Homo sapiens: one gene and its partners. The protein of the gene in region 2 binds, or shares a complex with, the protein of the main gene of each other region. Each region holds a gene or a part of one and is shown on either strand. Other genes may lie near its edges.

Evidence for each region.
Region 1: the proteins of PDZK1 (region 2) and AKAP10 are in contact, whole or in part, in a crystal structure (PDB 3TMH), measured with the Homo sapiens proteins. Residues at the interface, in NP_001188254.1 of Homo sapiens: Asn386, Gly387, Tyr388, Gly389, Phe390, His391, Leu392, Asn393, Ala394, Ile395, Arg396, Phe402, Lys404, Tyr436, Glu437, Val440, Ile443, Gln444; in NP_009133.2 of Homo sapiens: Pro655, Leu656, Glu657, Lys658, Ser659, Thr660, Lys661, Leu662.
Region 3: the proteins of PDZK1 (region 2) and SLC15A2 are in contact, whole or in part, in a crystal structure (PDB 6EZI), measured with the Homo sapiens proteins. Residues at the interface, in NP_001188254.1 of Homo sapiens: Asn386, Gly387, Tyr388, Gly389, Phe390, His391, Leu392, Asn393, Ala394, Ile395, Arg396, Gln407, Tyr436, Glu437, Val440, Ile443, Gln444; in NP_066568.3 of Homo sapiens: Glu723, Thr724, Lys725, Lys726, Thr727, Lys728, Leu729.

Annotation. Positions count from the first base shown.
Region 1 is NC_000017.11:19,953,814-19,960,837, forward strand, and holds part of AKAP10 (A-kinase anchor protein 10, mitochondrial isoform 1 precursor), read right to left. Parts: intron 4,759-7,024; coding exon 4,201-4,758; intron 1-4,200. UniProt on the Homo sapiens protein: Differentially targeted protein that binds to type I and II regulatory subunits of protein kinase A and anchors them to the mitochondria or the plasma membrane.
Region 2 is NC_000001.11:145,704,366-145,711,420, forward strand, and holds the start of PDZK1 (Na(+)/H(+) exchange regulatory cofactor NHE-RF3), read right to left. Parts: upstream 3,004-7,055; 5' UTR 2,952-3,003; intron 2,459-2,951; exon of another isoform or gene 2,299-2,458; intron 1-2,298. UniProt on the Homo sapiens protein: A scaffold protein that connects plasma membrane proteins and regulatory components, regulating their surface expression in epithelial cells apical domains.
Region 3 is NC_000003.12:121,889,552-121,897,415, reverse strand, and holds the start of SLC15A2 (solute carrier family 15 member 2), read right to left. Parts: upstream 3,016-7,864; 5' UTR 2,940-3,015; coding exon 2,835-2,939; intron 1,011-2,834; coding exon 923-1,010; intron 29-922; coding exon 1-28. UniProt on the Homo sapiens protein: Proton-coupled amino-acid transporter that transports oligopeptides of 2 to 4 amino acids with a preference for dipeptides. Transports neutral and anionic dipeptides with a proton to peptide stoichiometry of 2:1 or 3:1.

The DNA of each region.
Region 1 (7,024 bases), on a different chromosome or scaffold from region 2:
TTGAGGTCACAAGTTCGAGACCAGCTTGGCTAACATGGTGAAACCCTGTCTGCATTAAAAATACAAAAATTAGTCGGGCATGGTGGCACACGCTTGTAATCCCAGCTATTTGGGAGGCTGAGGCAGGAGGATAACTTGAACCTGGGAGGCAGAGGTTGCAGTAAGCCAAGATCTCACCACTGCACTCCAACCTGGGTGACAGAAGTGAGACTCTGTCTCACACACAAAAAACAAAACCCTAGGCCCAGATGGCATCACTTCCCAATTCAACCAAATATCTAAAGAAGAAATGACACCAATTCTACACAATCTCTTCTAGAAAATGGAAATAAGAGTAAAAATAAAAACTTCCCAATTCGTTTTATAAGGCCAGCATTACCCAATTTTAAGACTTACTATACAGTAATTAAGACCATGTGGTATTAACAAAGGAATAGACACACACATCATGAAACAGAAAAAGGAGTCCAAAAACAGGCCTAGACAAATATGGCAAAAGTACAAAGGCAATTCAATGGAGTAAAGGTTGTCTTTTCAACAAATGGTATTAGAACAACTAGACATCCATATGTAAAAATAAACAAAAAACAAAAAATCTGACGTAACCCTCATACTTATACGACATTAACTCAAAAAAGATATATATCTAAACGTAAAGTGTAAAACCATAATACTTTTTTTTTTTTTTTGAGATGGAGTCTCACTGTGTTGCCCAGGCTGGAGTGCAGTGGCGCGATCTCGGCTCACTGCAAGCTCCACCTCCCGGGTTCACACTATTCTCCTGCCTCAACCTCTCAAGTAGCTGGGACTACAGGTGCCCGCCACCACGCCCGGCTAATTTTTTTTTTTTTTTGTATTTTTAGTAGAGATGGGGTTTCACCGCATTAGCCAGGATGGTCTCGATCTCCTGACCTCGTAATCTGCCCACCTCAGCTTCTCAAAGTGCTGAGATTACAGGCATAAGCCATGGCACCTGGCCAACCACAATACTTTTAAAAGGAAACATATGAGAAAATCTTCATGACCTTTGCTTAGGCAAAGGGCTCTTAGGTGTGACTCTGAAGGCACAATCCATACAAGAAAAAAATGACAAGTTGAATGTAAATTTAAAAAAAAAAAGTCCTGATTGGGCACAGTGGCTCACGCCTGTAATCCCAGCACTTTGGGAGGCCGAGGCAGGTGGATCACTTGAGGTCAAGAGTTTGAGACCAGCCTGGCCAACATGGTGAAACCCCATTTCTACTAAAAATACAAAAAAATCAGCCGGGTGTGGTGGTGCGTGCCTATAATCCCAGCTACTAGGGAGGCTAAGGCAGGAGAACTGCTTGAACCCAGGAGGCGGAGGTTGCAGTGAGCCGAGATTGCCTCACTGCACTCCAGCTCGGGCGACAGAGCAAGACGCTGTCTCAAAAAAAAAAATAAGAAAAAAAAAGAGAAAAGGCAAAGCTATTGAGACGGAGAAAGATCAGCGGTTGCCAAGTGTTGGGATAGAGGTGGGGCTTGACTTCAAAGGTGAAGGAACTAACTGTTCTTTACCCTTATAGTGGTGACAGTTACAGGAATCTATGTATGTGTTAAAACTGATACAAGTATACATTTTAAAAAGGTCAAACTTACTATATATAATATTTGAAGATAATGAAAAAGGGAAAAATGTAACTAATGCTCTTTTAATAACTCCACTGCTATTTCTATTTTTATTGAAAATTACCACTAAAGCAAAGACAGTTTCTAAAAACAATAAATGTATTACAATTACAGAAACATAATCCTAGCACTTTGGGAGGCTGAGGTGGGCAGATCACAAAGTCAGGAGTTCAAGACCAGCCTGGCCAACATGGCGAAACCCCATCTCTTCTAAAAATACAAAAATCAGCCAGGCATGGTGGTGGGCACCTGTAATCCCAGCTACTCAGGGGGCTGAGGCAAGAGAATCGCTTGAACCCGGGAGGTGGAGGTTGCAGTGAGCTGAGAGTACGTCATTGCACTCCAGCCTGGGTGACAGAGTGAGACTCCATCTCAAAAAAAAAACAATTACAGAAACAGACTTTGGACTTCCATTTCCAGAAACAGGTTAGAAACTCTTCCCAATACTGAATTCTCTCAAAATGTTTTTTAAAAAGGTGAGTTTGTGTTAAACTAAGGAAAATAGTGGGAGGCAGAAACAAATACAGGCAGTGCCCTTATCTTAAACATTTGGGGCCAGTAGTATTCTGGAATTCAGAATTTTGGAGTTTTACAGGGACAACACATTAAGTTTAACAGAGAGCATATTAATACTCCAGCACCATCTGGGACAATACCCCATAATCAAACACCATATTTCTACAGTAAGTATAAACCTGTACTCATACAGGATCAGTACGAGCACCCAAGACAAAAATTCAGTTTTAAGTGGTACCAGAAGGGTAGTGACCCAGGCCCCAGGTGCATGGCAAAAGAAAATGCAAAACACCTGAAGTAACTTAATTTATACAGAGTACACAGAGAATTCCCACAGACAAAAGTCCAAGAAACATGTTCACGGCCAAAAATCACTAAAATCACAAGCCACCAACAGTCTGAATCCGAAGAAACAAAGAAATGCTGAGTCAGGTCCACAAAAAACTGTAGATAGCAGAATTATCAGACAAATATACATTTAATAAAACTAAATAAATAAAAGATGGGATCAAAAGTGGGAATGAAGGGTGAAAGGAATAAGAAACTACAAAAAATGATCCATAGAAATAAAAAATTCAATAACTTTTTTTCTTTGTTTGAGCTGGGGTCTTGCTGTGTTGCCCAGGTTGGTCTCAAAACTCCTGGGCTCAAGCAATCTTCTCACCTTAAGCTTCCTGAGTAGCTGGGAGTACAAGTGTGTGCCACTTCTCCCAGCTTACAGTAACTTTGCGATGAAAATAACATGCCGTCAGGTGTGGTGATTCATGCCTGTAATCCCAGCACTTTGGGAGGCCGAGGCAGGTGGGTCACTTGAGGTCAGGAGTTCAAGATCAGCCTGACCAACATGGTGAAACCCCGTCTCTACTAAAATATAAAAATTAGCCAGGAGTGGTGGCGGGCGCCTGTAATCCCAGCTCCTCGGGAGCCTGGTTGAGGGAAGGAAGGAGGGAGGGAGGGAGGAAGGAAATAACATGCTGAAAACTTGATTCAGTAGCAGATTAGACCTCATTTTAGTTCACTGAGAATGAGTGAACTAAAAGATCTGAAGAAATCACTTAGCCCTTTAAGACACAAAGAACATTTAAGATGAAAAAGAACATGAAGGCTGTCTAATCAAAATCCCAGGTGATAATTAAGAGTATATAATTTCTAAACTAATAGAGAAGAAAAAAAAACAGGTGCTCTTGTCAAAATGCTTCTAGGTCCACATTTACTGTACAACCTAGAGGAAGTTACCTAACCTTTCTAAGCCCTGGTTTTCTCATGTGTAAATAAGATAATCAGTCCGGGCGCGGTGGCTCATGCCTGTAATCCCAGCACTTTGGGAGGCCGAGGCAGGCGGATCACAAAGTCAGGAGATCGAGACCATCCTGGCGAACATGGTGAAACCCCGTCTCTACTAAAAATACAAAAAAATTAGCCGGGTGTGGTGGCAGGCGCCTGTAGTCCCAGCTATTTGGGAGGCTGAGGCAGGAGAATGGCATGAACCCGGAGGTTGCAGTGAGCCGAGACCGCGCCATTGCACTCCAGCCTGGGCGACAGAGCAAGACTCCATCTCAAAAAAAAAAAGATAATCATGCCTACTACCTGCACAAAGGTCTTGTGACTAATAAATAAAATCCAAATATACACTAAGCACTGAACTTAATAAATGTCACTTATTGGCAATTTTTAAAAATTTTTTAAAAATTTTATCTGCAAAGTGCAGTAAAATATTAATAAAATTAAGACCGAGGGAGGAAATAAGGCTATGTGGATAATGGTTTGATGTCAAAATCAGTGGAGGGGAAAAGTAGGACATTTGACCCTTCATTTACTAATTCTGATAACACACTTCTTAGAAGGTCCAGTCACTCCTGCTCCTTTTCCATACACTGATCTGACTCTACTACACTCTCCAAATTCTCCCAAATTTACAAGTAGTTAGAGGAGAAAAAAAATATTCCAATCATTTTATTCCTCATCTGAAGTTCTGCTTAGTAAATTAAAAAAAGAAAGTGAGACACATATGTACACACAAGAAAATCACATACTCACTTTTCATTAGTTTTCCTGACAATTCTTTTAGTGGAGAAGCGGGACTATTTCTACTGGCTACTGTAAGTGTAGAGGAAGATTCTTGGGTTTCCATGGAAACTTGGTGAGTTCCTGCTCTGGCCATTTCAAGACGGAGAGAATGGGCACTGTCACATTCCTGGGAAAGCAGCAAGTGATTCTGAGTGCTGTTAGTTCTATTATTCAGGTCAATTCCTTCTGAATGAGTCATAAACAACTGTGCTGAGCCAGAATCCTCCAATCTCTTATCAAGAGAATCAGTTAAAAAAGACGCTGTAGTTTCATGCTTTTTAGATGGAGAGACAGGCTCAGCCAGTGAGCTCTGCTTCACTGTGTTTAGACTGTGTGCTCTTATTCGCGACCAAGTTGTTGAATGAAAACTTTCAGCCTCTAACCAAAATTTCACCAAATGCTCCATTCGCCGAAGTTCCATGAATTGAATGAAGTAAGGGAGGACAATAGTGTCGTGCAAGACTTGTTCAAGGGTCTTAGAAAGGCTTGATTTGGTCTCTTGAGTCTGGTAGTCCAGACAAGATCTGCCTAAAAGATAGAAGCAAAAGAATTAGCAGTTCAGCAACAAATAATTTCAGATTGACAGATTAGTCAATCACTTTTAGCAACAACTGGTACCAGAGACCTTGAATAAAGTTTACTTCCTAGCAACTAAAGTAAATAAAAAAACTACAAATACTATGCTTTTGGTTTCTAAACAAAGTACAATCGTCCAAAACTTGCCTAAATTATTAAAAAGTTATTTGTTACTCAATAATTCTCATATCTCTTTTAATGGCAATTCAGACCATGTAAATTCTTTTTTTTTTTTTTTTTTTTTTTTTTGAGACTTTTCACTCTTGTTGCCTAGGCTGGAGAGCAATGGCGCGATCTCGGCTCAATGCAACCAACCTCCACCTCCCGGGTTCAAGCGATTCTCTTGACTCAGCCTCCTAAGTAGCTGGGATTACAGGCACCCGCCACCACGCTGAGCTAGTTTTTGTACTTTTAGTAGAGATTCGGTTTCACCATGTTGGTCAGGATGGTCTCAAACTCCTGACCTTCGGCAATCCACCCACCTCGGCCTCCCAAAGTGCTGGGATTGCAGGCGTGAGCCACTGCGCCCAGCCCAGACTACATAAATTCTTAAGAAAAAAAACTTATGATACTAGTTCCAAAGGGGCCAATAAAAATATTAAAAACTATACTCAACCTCATTAAAAATCCCAGAAAAGCAAATTAACATAAAATGCATTTTTGTCTGTCAAATTAGATTTTTTTCAAAAATTATTAAGCAGTAACAAGGGCACAGGAAAATAGGCAACACTCTCATTCGCTGGTCATGAGGATGTAAACTGGCAAAACCTTTTTGGAGGAGCATTCAGGAACAGATAGCAAAGTCTTAGCAAACTGCATTATTTTCAGTCCAGTAATTCCACTTGTAGGCACTTATCCTGAGGGAAAATTGTGGATATATCTACAAAGATGTTATGAACTCAGCATTATTCATTCATAGTAGGTTAAAGAGTAGCTTTGAGATCGTACCTTGAAAAATGAAACTAAACTTAATAAAAAATCATTTATCTTATATTTAACTAAATTTAAATTATAACCACAAGCTAATTGTTAGGAAAGACAAAAAATTTTTTTAAAAATTGGCTTTCATAGCATGATCATAAAGATGGGCATTCTTATAAAACTGACTGAGGGTTTCATCAATTTGTCAAAAGAGTTCTTCTTAATCCATTGATATTCAAATCATTTTTTTGAAGCACGTCGTGTCTTCATCCTCAGTCTTACTGTCAGTGTCAACTAGTTCATCTTTGTCAACATCACAAACTTGAGGAAATTCTGATCTTCTGTGAGGTTTACAATTTCTTTTAATTAAATTCTATGAGATAATGCTAGATTCACATGAAGTTCTAAGATACAATACTGAAAGGGCCAGGCATGGTCGCTCACGCCTGTAATTCCAGTACTTTAGGAGGCTGGGGCAGGCGGATCACTAGAGCCCAGGAGTTCAAGACCGGCCTGGGGAACATAGTGAAACCCCATCTCTAAAAAAATAATAATACCTAGAGATCCCTTGTACACTTTAGTTTCTCCCATGGTAACATCTTGCAAAGCTATAGTACAATATCACTCTAAGATACTGACAGTGATACAACACTCTAACTTGTTCAGATTTCCCCAGTTTTATCTATACTCATTCTTGTTTTTAGTTCTTTGTAATTTTATCACATTGAGATTTCTGCATCCACTGCCAAGATACAACTTCAACATCACAAAGATCCCTCATGTTGCACTTTTATAACTACACCCACTTACCCCTCTCACCTCCCTGTCTCTAACATCTGGCAAACACTAATCTTTTCATTTCTCTTAATTTCTCTATTTCAAGAATATTATCCAAACGGAATCATACTATATGTAGTCTTTAGGGACTGGTTTTTGTCTGACAGCATAATTCCCTTGATATTCATCCAGGTGGTTAAATGTATCAACAGTTTGTTCCTTTTTATTGCTGAATGGTATTCCATGGTATGAATGAACCAGTTCATTCACCTGCTGAAGAACATCCAGTTTTTCAATATTAAGCTGCTATGAACATTTGTGCACAGGTTTTTATTGGAAGGTAAGTTTTCATTTATCTGGGATAAATACAGAGTGCAACTGCTAGGTCATATGGTAATTGCATGTTTCACGTCATAAGAAACCACCAGCCAGGGATGACGGCTCATGCCTGTAATCCCAGCACTTTGGGAGGCCGAGGCGGGCTGATCACCTGAGGTCAGGAGTTCAAAACCAGCCTGAC
Region 2 (7,055 bases):
TAGTTGCCACTAAGTGGGCTAGGGCTATCTTTTCTACTTTCCAAAACTCCTGCCATTCCCTGGGTTCCTTCATTTCCGGGGGTCATGTAATAGCAAAGCTGTCTGAAGATTATCTCAATAGCACTTAAGATGTGCTAGACACTATGTGCATTCATTTAACCCTCATAACTTCCGGAACTAGGTTCTAATATGCCCATTTGACTGACAAGGAAATAGAAGCTTAGAGAGCCTGATCTAGAGTGCAGGTTTCCAATCCCAGTGCTCATTTTCTTAATCACTTAGCCATGATACCCATCAGGCAAAGAGATTAAGGAAATCTGGGCAGTCCCTCATGAAGGACCAAAGAAAGAAGTTGCTGAGATCTTGAGGAAAACACGTCTAGCTCCAGCTTGCCACTCTCATTGCATCCCTATGCAACGAATGCAAGAATCATTTCACTAAGAAGTGACCAGAGAAACCCATTCCCATATGATTAGACCCTGGACTTCAGATGCCCTGAGAGAGGATTGGAGTCCTTCAACCTCCTTTCCTGAGGAACACCTCATCAAAGCCATCGCCATCTGCATCTATTCTTCTAGCTCCTTCCCTGCCACACTAATTCCATTTATGCAAATATGTTCTATGCCAGGTAGTGCTCAAGGGGCTGGTAATACAGCAAGTAACACAAATGACAAGATCCCTGCAGTCTTGAAGCTTAACATCTGGCAAAGGTGACAAGTAAAAGAGATGATTTTTTTTTTCTCGAGATGGAGTCTCACTTTGTCACCCAGGCTAGGGTGCAATGGCACAATCTTGGCTCACTGCAACCTCCACCTCCCAGGTTCAAGCAATTCTCCTGCCTCAGCCTCCCAAGTAGCTAATACTACAGACAGGCAGTACCACGCCCGGCTAATTTTTGTATTTTTAGTAGAGATGGGGTTTCACCATGTTGGCCAAGCTGGTCTTGAACTCCTGACCTCAGGTGATCCACCTGCCTCAGCCTCCCAAAGTGCTGGGATTACAGATGTGAGCCACTGCACCCAGCCCAAATGAGATGATTTCTGATGGTACACGCTGTGAATGATAGAGATACTGGTGGCATGGAGGTGGGAGGCTGATTTAGAAAGTCCTTCCTGGGAGGTGACATTTTAATTCATACCCCAATGACAAGGAGCTACCCTTCAAGGCTCCAGGATCTACCTTATACTTGGCCAACTGAAAAAGACATTAATGATGATCTGGTCTCAACTTCTTATTTGTAAGTGAGCAAACAGAGGCTCAATGAGATTAAAAGACTAGGACAAGGTTTCCCAAGTGACTGCAATTTGTTTCTTCTTACTATTCTACAGAGACTTTCGATATACACATTTGAAATCTAGGCATCTTACATCGTGTTTTTAACATATTCATGGTTTTTTGTTTTTTAGACAGGATCTCAGTCTGTCACCCAGGCTGGAGTGCAGTGATGCAATCACGGCTCACTGTAGCCTCGACCCCCTGGGCTCAAGCAACCCTTCCATTTCAGCCTCCCAAGTAGCTGACACCACAGACACATGCCACCATGCAGGATTAATTTATTATTATTTTTTGTAGAGACGGGGGTCTCACTTCATTGCCCAGGCTGGTCTCGAACTCCTGGCCTCAAGTGATCCTCCCGCTTGGGCATCCCAAAGTGCTGGGATTACAGGCATGAGCCACCATGCAGGACCACACATTTGTACTTATAATTTTATTTTCAGTACACTCTTGGGGAAAAGATGACAGACCTTCACTTGATCAATAATGAAATTGAGGCTCCAGTTGGCTAAGTAGTTTGTCTAATGGCCTGTCACTAGCAACTGAATCAAAACTCTGATGATTTGTATTCCAGTCCTATGTTCTTTCCCCTGGGGGAGAAGTAGCTGCCTAGCCAGTGGTCTATGAATATAAGACATCATTACCAGCAACTTCACACCCTATGGTGCAGAGAACATACAAAAGTCAAAGATAAGCACAAGTTACTATCATAACACAGAAATTCAAAGACCCTGAGTAATTTGCTGCAGACTTCAGATGACTGGACAATCATGGCCTGAGGCAGTCCCTGCTACCCCCTCTTGCCTTCTAGATACAAGACTGAAAGCTGCCCTGGTGACACATTGCAGAGATTTTAGTAAATAAAGAAGAATGTGTTTCTCAGAGCCAACGCCCAAATCTTCATAGCTGGACCCAACCCAGACCAGGAGTCTTCATAGCGAGTGAACCCTTAGGTAAGTGTCATACTTAAGTCTCATGAGTCTTCTGCTTAAGAAATAAACTACTAGTGGTTCCCAAACCTACCTGCACTGATCAGAATGATTCTGGGAGAGTTTTCAAATAAAGATCTTTCAATTCACACAAGGCCTGGAGACTTAGAAATGCCAAAGGTGAGAGCCTGGGGAATGTATGTTTTAAAATTCAGCCAGCCTGGAAATCCACTGGTTTTTCTCATGTCTTAGTGCTGCAGTGTGATACAGAGAGGAAAGATGCCTGCTTTTATTATCTAGTGGGCAAGCTAAGTTAGGCTGCATCCTTTAAAGGCTGCTTCCAGAAGAGTCTTCTCTGCTACCCAAGGCCCCTGTATCAGTAGGAAGGTCCCGGGCATATCCGCCTGGTTACCTGTGAAGTCAGTTGTCTCACTCCCTTTGGCTGCACATCAAACCCCCACACAACCCCGGGAAGGCTTTTTCTGAGGTCGGTTTACCAATTTCTTTGTGAAGCAGACCCTAGCCTACAAAGGTGAGGGGCATCTCCAGCAGAAAGAATCTCAGAGCGTGGATCATCTCTCACCCCCAACCACCGCCAAAGGGGCCTGGCTGCCTCCCCATGGGACTCTTCTCTGCCCTAGACAGCCAGCTACTGGCTTGGAAAAAGAAAAAGGGAAAAGGAAAAGAAAGAAGGTAGTTCAGGCCCCGGTGGCCAGCACCCTCAAGGAGGACACGAGCAGTTCTTACCTGGAGATGGAAGAGGAGCTGCTCTGTTCGTTCACTCAGGAATTCTGTCTCTGCAGGTGAGCATTAAGCTTGCAACTCACTGGACTTTGAACAAAGATTGATTTAAAAGCTAATGTATTTAACAGGGACATGTGGTCTGAATTCAAGTGACCTCTGTCCTGCTTCCTGCCAGCTGGCTGGGCCCTGAGCTGGAAAATCTGACAAACCTCAGCAAACCAAAAGCTCTGGCCCACCTGCCTGGCCCTGCGGGGAGGCCGCTGCTCGCCAGCCACTCCCAGAGAACAAGGAGGGGAGAGGGGGTGAAGGACAGCCAGGGAGGAGGTGCCTCCGCTTTCCTTGGTACTCTCCCTTTGGCAGATACCTTGGTTACACCCAACCAACCCCCAATCCTGTTAGGATCCTCCAGTCCCCCATCCTGGGGTCAGGGCCGAGGCTCATACAGGAGTATCCTCAATCACTGAGGCCTCCCCAAGGAGCAGTAGCCTATAAAACTCCCACCCACGAGGCCAGTAAGCCCCAGGAAATGGGGCCAAGCACTCAGGGCACCCATCCTGCTTCCCTCTGCCCTGGATTCTCACTTGTGTGCTCCCTAGGAGTTTAGCAAGCAAAGCCCTAGAGCAAGCAAAGCCCTTGTTCTTGTGTCCCAGGCTTCCTTCTTCTTATCCACTCTCTCCCCTCTCTTTTTTTCTTCTCTTTCTCACCTGATGGTGCTCTTTCTATTCTCCAGCCTAGCGATAATTGTCTTCCCCTTCACACACTCAGAGCCTCTCGGGCAAGCCCAGCAGGGTAGGTGGAAGGCATTTTTACAAACCCCTCCATCCTGCTGCCTTGCTGCCCGAGCAGTAGGCTGGTGCCCGTGTGCTCAGCCGCTAGCCCTAGCCATGATCAGCAGCTGATCCCTATCAGCAGCACCCACACAGACAATTCTATCACTGGCCTTCTCACTGACCTGAATCCTCAGCCCACAATGCAAATCAGGGCAAGAGATTGCTCCCGGCACTGAGGCAAAGCAAACCACAGGCCGAGGACTGGGTGACCTCACCCCTCTTCCACCCACACTGGAAGAGCCATTTGTCTTTGCTGGGCCTTGGCTTGGCCCCCAACAAAGACATGACCTGAGCCCATGGATAAACGGTTTAAAATGACATTGAGCAGCTTCCTCATACCAGCTTATCTTCCTCCACCTCGGGGCTAAGCCCTCCTGGCCTCCTCTATATCTTTCAAAGCAGAAGGTAGAATGGGAAAATCTGGATTTAGGATCAGAACACCTGAGTTCATCGCAATCCCAGCAATTTGTGAGGCCAAAGCGGGCAGATTGCCTGAGCTCAAGAGTTCGAAACCAGCCTGGGCCACATGGCAAAACCTTGTCTCTACAAAAGGTACAAAAAGCCAGGCATGGTGGTGCATGCCTGTAGTCCCAGCTACTCTGGAGGCTGAGGTGGGAGGATCACTTGATTGAGAGGCAGAGGTTGCAGTGAGCCGTGATCATGCCACTGCACTCCAGCCTCAATGACAGAGCGAGACCCTGTCTCCAAAAAAAAAACAACAAAACAAAAAAGAAAGAAAGAACACCTGAGTTCAATTCTGACGCCACCATTTCCCATTTCCCAGGTGTTTGATCCAGAGTAATTCATTTTTAACTCTCTGGGTCTCACCTTCATCATGTATAAATAGTTGTTATTGTATGGTTTTTAGAAATTTTTAAAAATTGCTGTTGTTGTTGTTGTTGTTTGAGATGGAGTCTCACTCTGTTACAGCCCAGGCTGAAATGCAGTGGTGCAATCTCAGCTCACTGCAACATCCGCTTCCTGAGTTCAAGTGATTCTCCTGCCTCAGCCTCCCGAGTGGCTGGGATTACAAGTGCCCGCCACCATGCCTGGCTAATTTTTTGTATTTTCAGTAGAGACAGGGTTTCACCATGTTGGCCAGGCTGGTCTCGAACTCCTGACCTCAAGTGATCCTCCCGCCTTGGCCTCCCAAAGTACTGGGATTACAGGCCTGGTGTATTCCTTTTGTCTCTGGTTTATTTCATTCAATATGATGTTTGTGAGGTTCACTCACGTTGCTGTGAGTAGCTGTAGTTCATTCATTTTCATACTAGGATTCCATTTACATGATGTCCAAATATAGGGCAGAACTTTGGGGGATTCCTGCTTAGGTGGTAACACACGACCCTAACTTCTGGTATGCTGGCAATATTCTAGTTCTTGAGCTAAGTGAAGGTTACACAGGTGTTTAAGATTAATTACCGAGCTATGCATTTTTGTTTCATGCACTTATTCTGTATAAATAATAATTAAATTATATTGAAATTTTAAACATTACAATATGTGTATAGCATACTGGAGTAAGAAGAAGCTCTTCCAGTGACCTGCCTGAGGATTTCAGCTGTGCTCAGCTCTGCATGATCTATTCAAAAATGAAAGGGATCAATATCTTGGCATGCCAATAACCTACATGTGGCACACCTGAGCAATCTGGTCAGGAAGCTTTGATCTCTCCAATTTTTAAAAATTGGCTGGGCACGGTAGCTCATGCCTATAATCTCAGCACTTTGGGAGGTTGAGGCGGGAGGAATGCTTGAGTCCAGGAGTTTGAGACCAGCCTGGGCAACATGGTGAAACCCCATCTCTACAGAAAATACAAAAATTAGCTGGGTGTGGTGGTGTGCACCTGTAGTCCCAGCTACTCAGGAGACTGAGGCAGGAGGATTGATTGAGCCTGTGAGGTCAAGGCTGCAGTGAGTCACGATCATGCCACTGCACGCCAGCCTGGGCTACAGAGCGAGACCCTGTCTCAAAAAAAAAAAAAATTAAATTGTGGTAAAATATTCATAACAAAAAAATTATCATTTTAATCATTTTGATTATACAATTCAGTGGCATTAAGTACTTTCACACTATTGGGCAACCATCACCACCATCCATCTCCAGAACTTTTTCATCTTCCCAAAGTGAAACTGTGTAGCCGTTAAACACGATTTTCTATTCCTTCCTCCCCAGCCCCTGGCAACTACCTTTCTACTTTGTTTCTACAAATTTGACTACTCTAAGCACCTTCTATGTGTGGAATCATATGCTATTTGTCCTTTTGTGACTGGCTTATTTCACTTAGCAAATGTCTTCAAAGTTCATTCATGTTGTAGCACATGTCAGAATTTCCTTCCTTTTGAAGGGTGAATAATATTCCACTGTGTACATACATCACATTTTATTTATTCGTCCATCAAGGAATGGATTGCTACCACCTTTAGGCTGCAGTCAATAATGCTGCCATGAAAATGGATGTACAAATATTTGTTCAAGTCCCTGTTTTCAAATCTTTTGGGTATTTGCCCAGAAAAGGAATTGCTGGATCATACATTTAATTTTTTAAGGAACCACCATACACCATACTGTTTTCCACGGTGGCTGCACCATTTTGCTTTCTCACCAGCAACATAGAAAGGTTCCAATTTCACCACATTCCCATGAACACTTGTTCTTTTCTGTTTTTTGTTTGTTTGTTTTTTAATTGATGGCCATTTTAATGGGTTTGAGGTGACATCTCATTGTGGTTTTGATTTGCATTTCCTTAATGATTCATGATGTTGGGCATCTTTTCACGTGCTTACTGGCCATTTGTATCTTCTTTAGATAAATGTCTATTCAATTTGCTTGCCCATTTTTAAAATCAAGTTGTTTTTGTTGTTATTGAATTGTATCATCTCAATTTTTCTTTATTATAAAACAAAGACTCAGAGAGGTGAAGTGACTTAGCCAAAGCCCCCTCAGGCAGAAACATGGCTAAAAACTCTGTGCTTTTGCTTTTGTGGCCAATGCCCTTTCTACTATACCAGTCTGCCTGGCTCAGTGGGTATCCTCACATTTTTCCTCCAACTTCAGGTCTGATTGTCCTAGTATGCATGTCCTACTACCTTGTCTTTTTAGTAGCTCATTAACTTACTCTGAGCCTGGAATTTTAAGCTCCAGTGGTTTTCTCTCCCTGTCTAGAGTCAATATTTATGACAGTCTCCCTTTCCACTCTCTCTGTTACTCTGGCCTCATCCCACCTTAAGAGGCGACTGTGTACTCTGCATACCTTTGGAGGAATTTATTAGGCCAG
Region 3 (7,864 bases), on a different chromosome or scaffold from region 2:
AAATACAGGAAATACAGGATCAGCACAGCTGTAGTGGGAAAAAAAAGGAGGCGTGGGGAGACAAAACAAGATAGATGCATTAAAGTGACTTATGGAAAAAAATATTTAATCTCTGGTCTTTATAATGTGATTTTGGCCTTCAGCACTCCTATCAGTGACATGACTGAGAAGTGACTGCCAGGCAGTAGAAGCAGGGCCCCATGGGAGTTGTGGGAGTGAATGGGACTATGTTGAATGTACAAATATAATACTCCTCCCTTCAGTCTATGTGCACCCCTAGCATCATTTAGGCCAACCATGAACATAACATGGTGCTTCCAATATCCCTTCCCTCTCCTCTCCTTCCCAGCAACAAGATGATAAGACCTCTTATCTGAATTCCATTCTTCATACCTGTTCCTCAGGTATGAGCCCTTAGCCAAGAGCTGTTAGCTCATACCTGAGGAACAGGTATGAAAAATGTAACTGAGATAATGAGAGCTTTCCCTCCCCCCCCTTTTTTTTTTTTTTTTTTGGAGATGAGTTCTTGCTATGTTGCCCAGGCTGGAGTGCAGTGGCCATTCACTGGCACAATTACAGGTGCCTGATAACCTTGAACTCCTGGGCCCAAGCAATCCTCCTGCTTCAGCCTCCCAAGTAGTGGCGACTACAGGCACATGCCATCATGCCCAGCTCCACCCACTTACCCATTCTCAAAGTCTATGTTCTGGTTTGTCTCAGGCCTTTCTGATCTTGGCCTACATATTAGGTGAAATCCTATGAGAGATTTATTGGAAGTCTTGGCCAAAGTAAAGGACCAATTTGGACCAAGGCAGAAAGAGTGGACTCGGGAAATAAGTGCATATAAAGAGACCAGGCTGTCACAAACATGGGGTGAGGGTGGGTGGAGGAGAGTAGGTAGGACTCTTGGACACAAAATTACCTTTCATTCCATAATAGGAAAAGCGCTCGCAGAATTCATTCACCACAATGAAGGCAATGCTCAGTGGATAGTTGGAGCCACAGATTGTCTATTCAACAAGAAGGCAATGATTCAAGCATGAGCTGTTTTTCCCTGTTTCAACAATTAGATTTCTTCAAAACTGAAAAATTCATTTATTTCAAATCATCTTGGTAGGTAATGGAGCAATGGTCTCTACTCTTCATGACACACCTATTAGGTAACACTAAAAGTGCTTATATTACTGATTTAGAAATAATAGAAGCTACTCTGAATATTATTTTGTTTCTTATTTATTTTACATGGACTTGCTCAAATATTCCTTGGACCTGCTCATCTTCCCACAACTACTAAATGAAAAGCCTAGGGCTCTGGGGCAGAAGAATGGTGATATTTACTTCCTAGGAACAGAATAAAGAGGTAGCCTATGGAATACCTGATATCCAAGCAGTGAGATTCAGATGTCAGTCTCTGCTTAGCCCCACTATGGGGACTCTTGTCCCCAGCTGTTCTGTTTGCCATGCTGGGAGGAATCCTGGCAATATGATAGCTTCTACTTCAGAGGCTGCTGGAGTCAGGCACAGAGCCCAACATGGAGGACAGAGATTCCTAAGGGTAAGCTAATTGATCACCTTGACTTTAGGCAGAGTTCTTAAATCCTGTAAAATTAAATGTCTACTCTTCCTACTAAAGAGATTCTATAACATTTTCATGATAATCCTACTGGACATTAAAAGAATTATGCTTTTCATGTAATATATCAGTCAGAATATAAGGAATGTTATGTTTTATTTTAATTCCCTATCTATTACAATAGACCAACTAACATGAGAAGAGACATAGAGGTATCTGTCCTCAGTACAGTCAAATCTTGTAAGATTTATATTGCCTCATTTCATGAGAAGTATATACATCTTTGCAAGTAGCCCTAAATTCTTTGGGACCAGAAGAGATATCATTAACTAAAAAAATAGGCAAAATAATAAAGTAATGTATTATTCTTTTAACCCTAGGGATATATATAAATGATCCTCCTAAATATTAATATATTTTAATGTTTTATAATAGCTTGTTTGAAACATACAATGAACTGGGCTTCTTACCTTTGCAGCTCACAGCTTGAGAATTATGCAATCTGGAGTTTAGCCGACACACTGTTAGCTAGTTAGGCAACACTGCCACTGGCTGTGTTAACATACTGATACTGGCATTGTCACTACACCTGTCTCAAAACCTCTGTTCTGTTATTCCAAAGAAATGAGAATAACATCACCTTTTGGCCCACTGTAAGAACTCAGTAAATTTTGGCTATCATTACTATATCCTCCCCACTTACAGAATTTTAGTGTAAGAATTGACTGAGATGATGAGTTTAGAAGTGCTTTAGCGAGTATATAAATGCAAAACATTACTATTCTCTGTTTCTCTGTCCTATCTCCCACAGTAAACTGGGAACACATAGTAACAGAAATTGGATCTATTCTGAAACTTCCATTGGTGTTCAGCAGAAGACTCTGCACACAGGGAGAACTAAGGGCAGAGTTTTTATATTGGTAAAGAAAGAACAATCACACACAGTTCTTCAGACAAGAATGCTTGCCAAGTTTCCCTGGACATTCGAATTGCTTTTTTCCCCCAGGGAAACAGAATATGCAATGAAATTCAGCAAGTCCCTGGATCCCAACTGAAGAACTTTGACTACCTCTTCCTGCTGCTTTGTCTTCTTATGTAAAGGAAGCTTCTGTTTAGATTTGGTTTCAGGTGAATTCTAAATCCAAGAGAGAAGCATTTTAATACCCTAATACAGCTCAGCTGGAAGCTCCAGAGCCCAAGGAAGAGAGCCAAAAGAGGGAGGCCATTCCTCTCAGAGGCAGGATTGAATCTAAGGACTCACCGGAGATGGCTTCTTTGGAGGGCTAGGTGGTCGAGGTGGTACCTCTTCAATGGAGACAGGTGAAAAAAGAGTTTCCTTGGACTCATTTTTCTGGAAAGGATTCATGGCTGGCTCCTTACTCTCTCTCTCTCCTCAAGCATTTGGCTTTAGTAGGCAGTTAGGACAGCTGCCAGCCTACTCTGAAAAGAAGGACTGGGAGGGGGAGCTGGTGGCTTCAGCAACTCAGTTTAACTCTGTGGGTGTCAGCTTCAATAGCTTCCTGATCCAGAGCAAAGCAGGAAGCTATAGTTAAAAAGAATGTGTAAAAGTACAGCACAGCAAAGTGAAAACATGCCAAAGACAGAATGAAACAATGCTAGAGAACTGATTAGAAAGTCTATGTTTAAGAAAGATTATCTTTGCAAAGGAGTAGAAGATAGTTAAGAACACAACACCTCGAGCACAGATTGAAAAACTGATTCCATGGTCAGGCGCGGTGGTTCACGCATATAATCCTAGCACTTTGGAAGGCCCAGGCAGGCGGATCGTTTTAGGTCAGCAGCCTGGCCCACATGGTGAAACCCCGTCTCTACTAAAAATACAAAAAAAAAATTAGCTGGGTGTGGTGGCGGGCGCCTATAATCCCAGCTACTCAGGAGGCTAAGGCAGAAGAATCACTTGAACCTGGGAGGCGGAGGTTGCGGTGAGCTGAGATTGCACCATTGCACTCCAGCCTGGGCAACAAGAGCGAAACTCCATTTCCAAAAAAAAAAAAAAAGAAAAACTGATTTCAGGGTAACAATAGCTGTAATTTATTGAACATCTACTATTGAAAGGTTAATATATATGAATTACATCTATGTTGTATATCTATAACATATATATTTATTCTAATTCATATTACTATCCCCATTTTATAGAAAGTAATGTTCCCAGAGGTTAAGAAATTTGTTCAAAGTACCTGTCCACTAAGTGGCAGATCTGGAATTTTCACTATGCCATGACAGCTGGGAAAAGTGGAGTTAGTGTCAGTCATTATTCAGGTATGGAGGTTACATAAATGGAATGTAGGAATGCAGAGGATTAAAATGCATTGGAGAAGGAAAGTCATCATAAAACTGAGTTTGGAAGATAAGAAAGATGGTGAGTTTTGGCTGGGTGCAGAGGCTTACGCCTGTAATCCCAACACTTTGGGAGGCCGAGGTGGGCTGATCACAGCTCAGGAGTTCAAGATTAGCCTGGCCAACATAGTGAAACCCCATCTCTACTAAAAATACAAAAATTAGCTGGGTGTGGTGGCACGCGCCTGTAGTCCCAGCTACTCAGGAGGCTGAGGCAGGAGAATCGTTTGAACCCAAGAGGCAGAGGTTGCAGTGAGCCGAGACCCCACCACTGCACTCCAGCCTGGGCGACGGAGCAAGACTTGAAAGAAAGAAAGAAAAGAAGGGAAAGAAAGGAAAGAAAGAAAGAAAAGAAGGGAAAGAAAGGAAAGAAAGAAAAGAAAAGAAAGGAAGGAAGGAAGGAGACTTTTGTTTTCAACATCATAAAAGTTCAGCTAGAAATAGCCTATAAGCAATTAAAGAGGTGGGGCTAAAGAAAATGAGAGAAAAGGATTGGTGATATACATTTGGGAACCATTGTTCTTCTTTGCTAAAGTCACTCCTTATATTTTCATTTTCTCACTTCAAGATTAATCTATTCTTTCATTTAATAAATAAAATTTAATTTGAGCAAAAATTGTGAACCAGTTACTTTCTAGGTACTGTTGTGAACACCATTTTCCTTAATTATACATTTAGTCCTTATCAGAAGAGGAACAAGAACAAACATCATAATGCTAGGTGCATTTTATGCTGTGTTATTTTTGTCAAGCCAAAGAAGTAAAAGGATAAGAAAAGAGCATGGTGCCCCTCTAGTTGTTTGTCAAAAGAAAAGGGAAAAGAAAGGCTAGAGAGCTATAAAAGAAATAAGAAAAATGAAGACTAAATCAACAAGGTCAGGCAACATCAGAATGAATTATTTTATTTGAAAATACAAGAGAGAAAACCTATAACTCTATCCCTCACAAAATTTTTACTTTAACTATTCAAATAATTTATTGACAAATAGGGCCAGGATAAACTGTCTTTTCCTCTCTAAACTTTAACTCAGACTTTGACCATATCTTCTCAGCTTCTATTACACCCCTCATTTCTACTGTCTCCCACCAACCTTTACCCAAAGAAGAGTCCAGCTTCATTTCTGACTGTGGCATTAATAATTAAGGTATAGTTATTCTTTCAGGAAGCACTGCCATTTCTGAATTGGTTTGGTTAATGACTTTGGCTGGAAAATAAATGGTCAGAAGTTACTAGTCAAGTTAACTAGCAGAGGCACAGATGCCTTGAAGATCCACTTATGTTGTGGCTTTCCTTGATCTGGCAGAGTAGATGGAATAGCACCTGTATGCAATGTACCAATTTATTTGTGCTCATAGGTATCCCAAATACTAAACTTTGGAGTATTGGCAGTGGTTTTCTGACACTCCTTTGTTTAGACAAAATTCTTCTTTTGATTATGGCAGTATAATGATAGTATTCACAGAATCGAATAATATCAGAGATGGAAGGAATCTTAATCTTGTCCTATGTGAGTGAAACTTCCCTGAGGATAAGAATCATTTTCCTTTGGAAATTCCAATTCAGTAGATCTCGGTAGGGATCTAAGAATCTTTGTTTTCAACGAGCACCTCTAGCAATTCTTACGCTAGGAATTTGGGAAACACTGGTCATAAATTCTCTCCTATTCTATTTCAGAGGAACTCAGAAGGGACAAAGCAAGGACTGGAACCCTAGGCTCCCAAGGCATAGTCTTGAGCCATTTATATAATATTAAGATGGCTCTTAAATCCTATTATTTTGCTAACATCAGATAGAAGGAGAAAGAGAAGAGATAAAAAGAAAGCACCTCCCAGACAGAAATGAGCACCAACTATTCTGAGACAAACAATAAAAGTGAAAGAATCTAAGTATCAGTGATGAGTAAAGAATATTTGTGTCCTTAGTGATTACAACATCAGAAAACATTTATTATGACATATGATAAAGTTTTAGTTATATATACACAAAAGTAGACTGCTGCTCTAAGTTAATAGAATCTAATATAGTCAGAGAGAAGAGGAAAATATGAAATTAAAAGGGAACATATATTTAACAAGTTCTCTAAATTAAAATACACAAAAATAAATTGTATCAAACATCAGTCACAAAGAAATAGAAAAGGGAAATCTAAGGAATACATTTATATATTTATTTATATAAATAGATTTAGGAATAAATCTAACAAAAGATCTTCTAGACCTCAATATTAAAAACTATAAAATTTTACTGAAAGAAATTGAAGAAGATCTAAATAAATGGAAACATACCATGCTTATGAATTGGAAGGCTCATATTGTAAAGATGTCAACATTTCTCAAAACATTCTACAGTTCTAAAACAAAATCCCAGCAGGTTTTGTGAGTATAGAAAATGACAAGATGACTTTTTAAAGTCAACTTGGAAGTGCAAAGAGCCAAGGATAGCAAAGTCAATCTTAAAGAATAATGGTGGAGGATTGTATTACCCAATCTAAGACCTATTTTAAAGATAGTTATTATATCAGAGTGGAATTGACACAGATAACATAGGGCAACCAATGAAACAACACAGCGTTCAGAAAGTGATTCACACACATAATGTATATAACAAAGATGATGCTGTAATACAGTGAAGGAAATGATGTTGATTTCAATAAATAAACACCATTTGAATATCCATACCCCCTAAATTATTTTGACCCTTATTTTACAACATACACAAAAATAATTTCTATATAGATTGCCTATCTAAATGTTAAAGTAAAAAAAAATGTCTTTAGAGGAAAACATAAGAGAACATCTTTATGATTGTGGAGTAAGTCAGCATTTCTTTTTTTTCTTTCTTTTTTTTTTTGAGACGGAGTCTCTGCTCTGTCGCCCAGGCTGGAATGCAGTGGCATGATCTCACTGCAACCTCCGCCTCCCGGGTTCAAGCTATTCTCCTGCCTCAGCCTCCTGAGTAGCTGGGATTACAGGCACGCGCCACCACGCCTGGCTAATTTTTGTATTTTTAGTAGAGACGGGATTTCACCATGTTGGTCAGGCTGGTCTCAAACTCCTGACCTCGTGATCAGCCCACCTCGGTCTCCCAAAGTGCTGGAATTACAGGCATGAGCCACTGTACCTGGCCAGCATTTCTTAAATAAGATATAAAATATGGTAACCATGAAAGAAAAAAAAGAGATGTTGGACAATATTAAAATTAAGAACTTTTGTTGACCACTCTGCAAATTGTCAAAAGACAATTTACAGAGGGGAAGAAAATATTTGTGTTACATATATCTGTCAAAGGATTTGTGTCCAGATTATATAAGTAACTGCATAAATCAATAACAAAAAGATTAATAGGTAAATGGAAAAATATTCTTTTGCCTGGGCGACAGAGCAGAGACTCCGTCTCAAAAAAAAAAAAAAGAAAGAAAGAAAAATAGTCTCCACCTTTCTGGACGGAACTAATGTATTTCTTACATATATTGATTGATGTCTCATATCTCCCTAAAATGTAAAAAACCAGCTATGTCCCAACCACCTTGGGCACAAGTCATCAGAACTTCCTGAGGCTGTGTCACCAGCTAGTCCTCAGCCTTGGTAAAACAAACTTTCTAAATTAACTGAGACTGCCAGGCCTGTAATCCCAGTACTTTGGGAGGCTGAGGGGGGAGGATCACTTGAGGTCAGCAGTTTGAGATCAGCTTGACCAACATGGTGAAACCTCATTTCTACTAAAAATACGAAAACTGGCCAGGCGTGGTGGCCGGCGCCTGTAATCCCAGCTACTCTGGAGGCTGAGGCAGGAGAATCGCTTGAACTGGGGAGGCGGAGGTTGCAGTGAGCCCAGACCCCGCCATTGCATTCCAGCCTGGGCAACAAGAGCGAAACTTCGTCTCAAATAAATAAATAAATTAATTAATTAACTAAGACATGTCTCAAATTT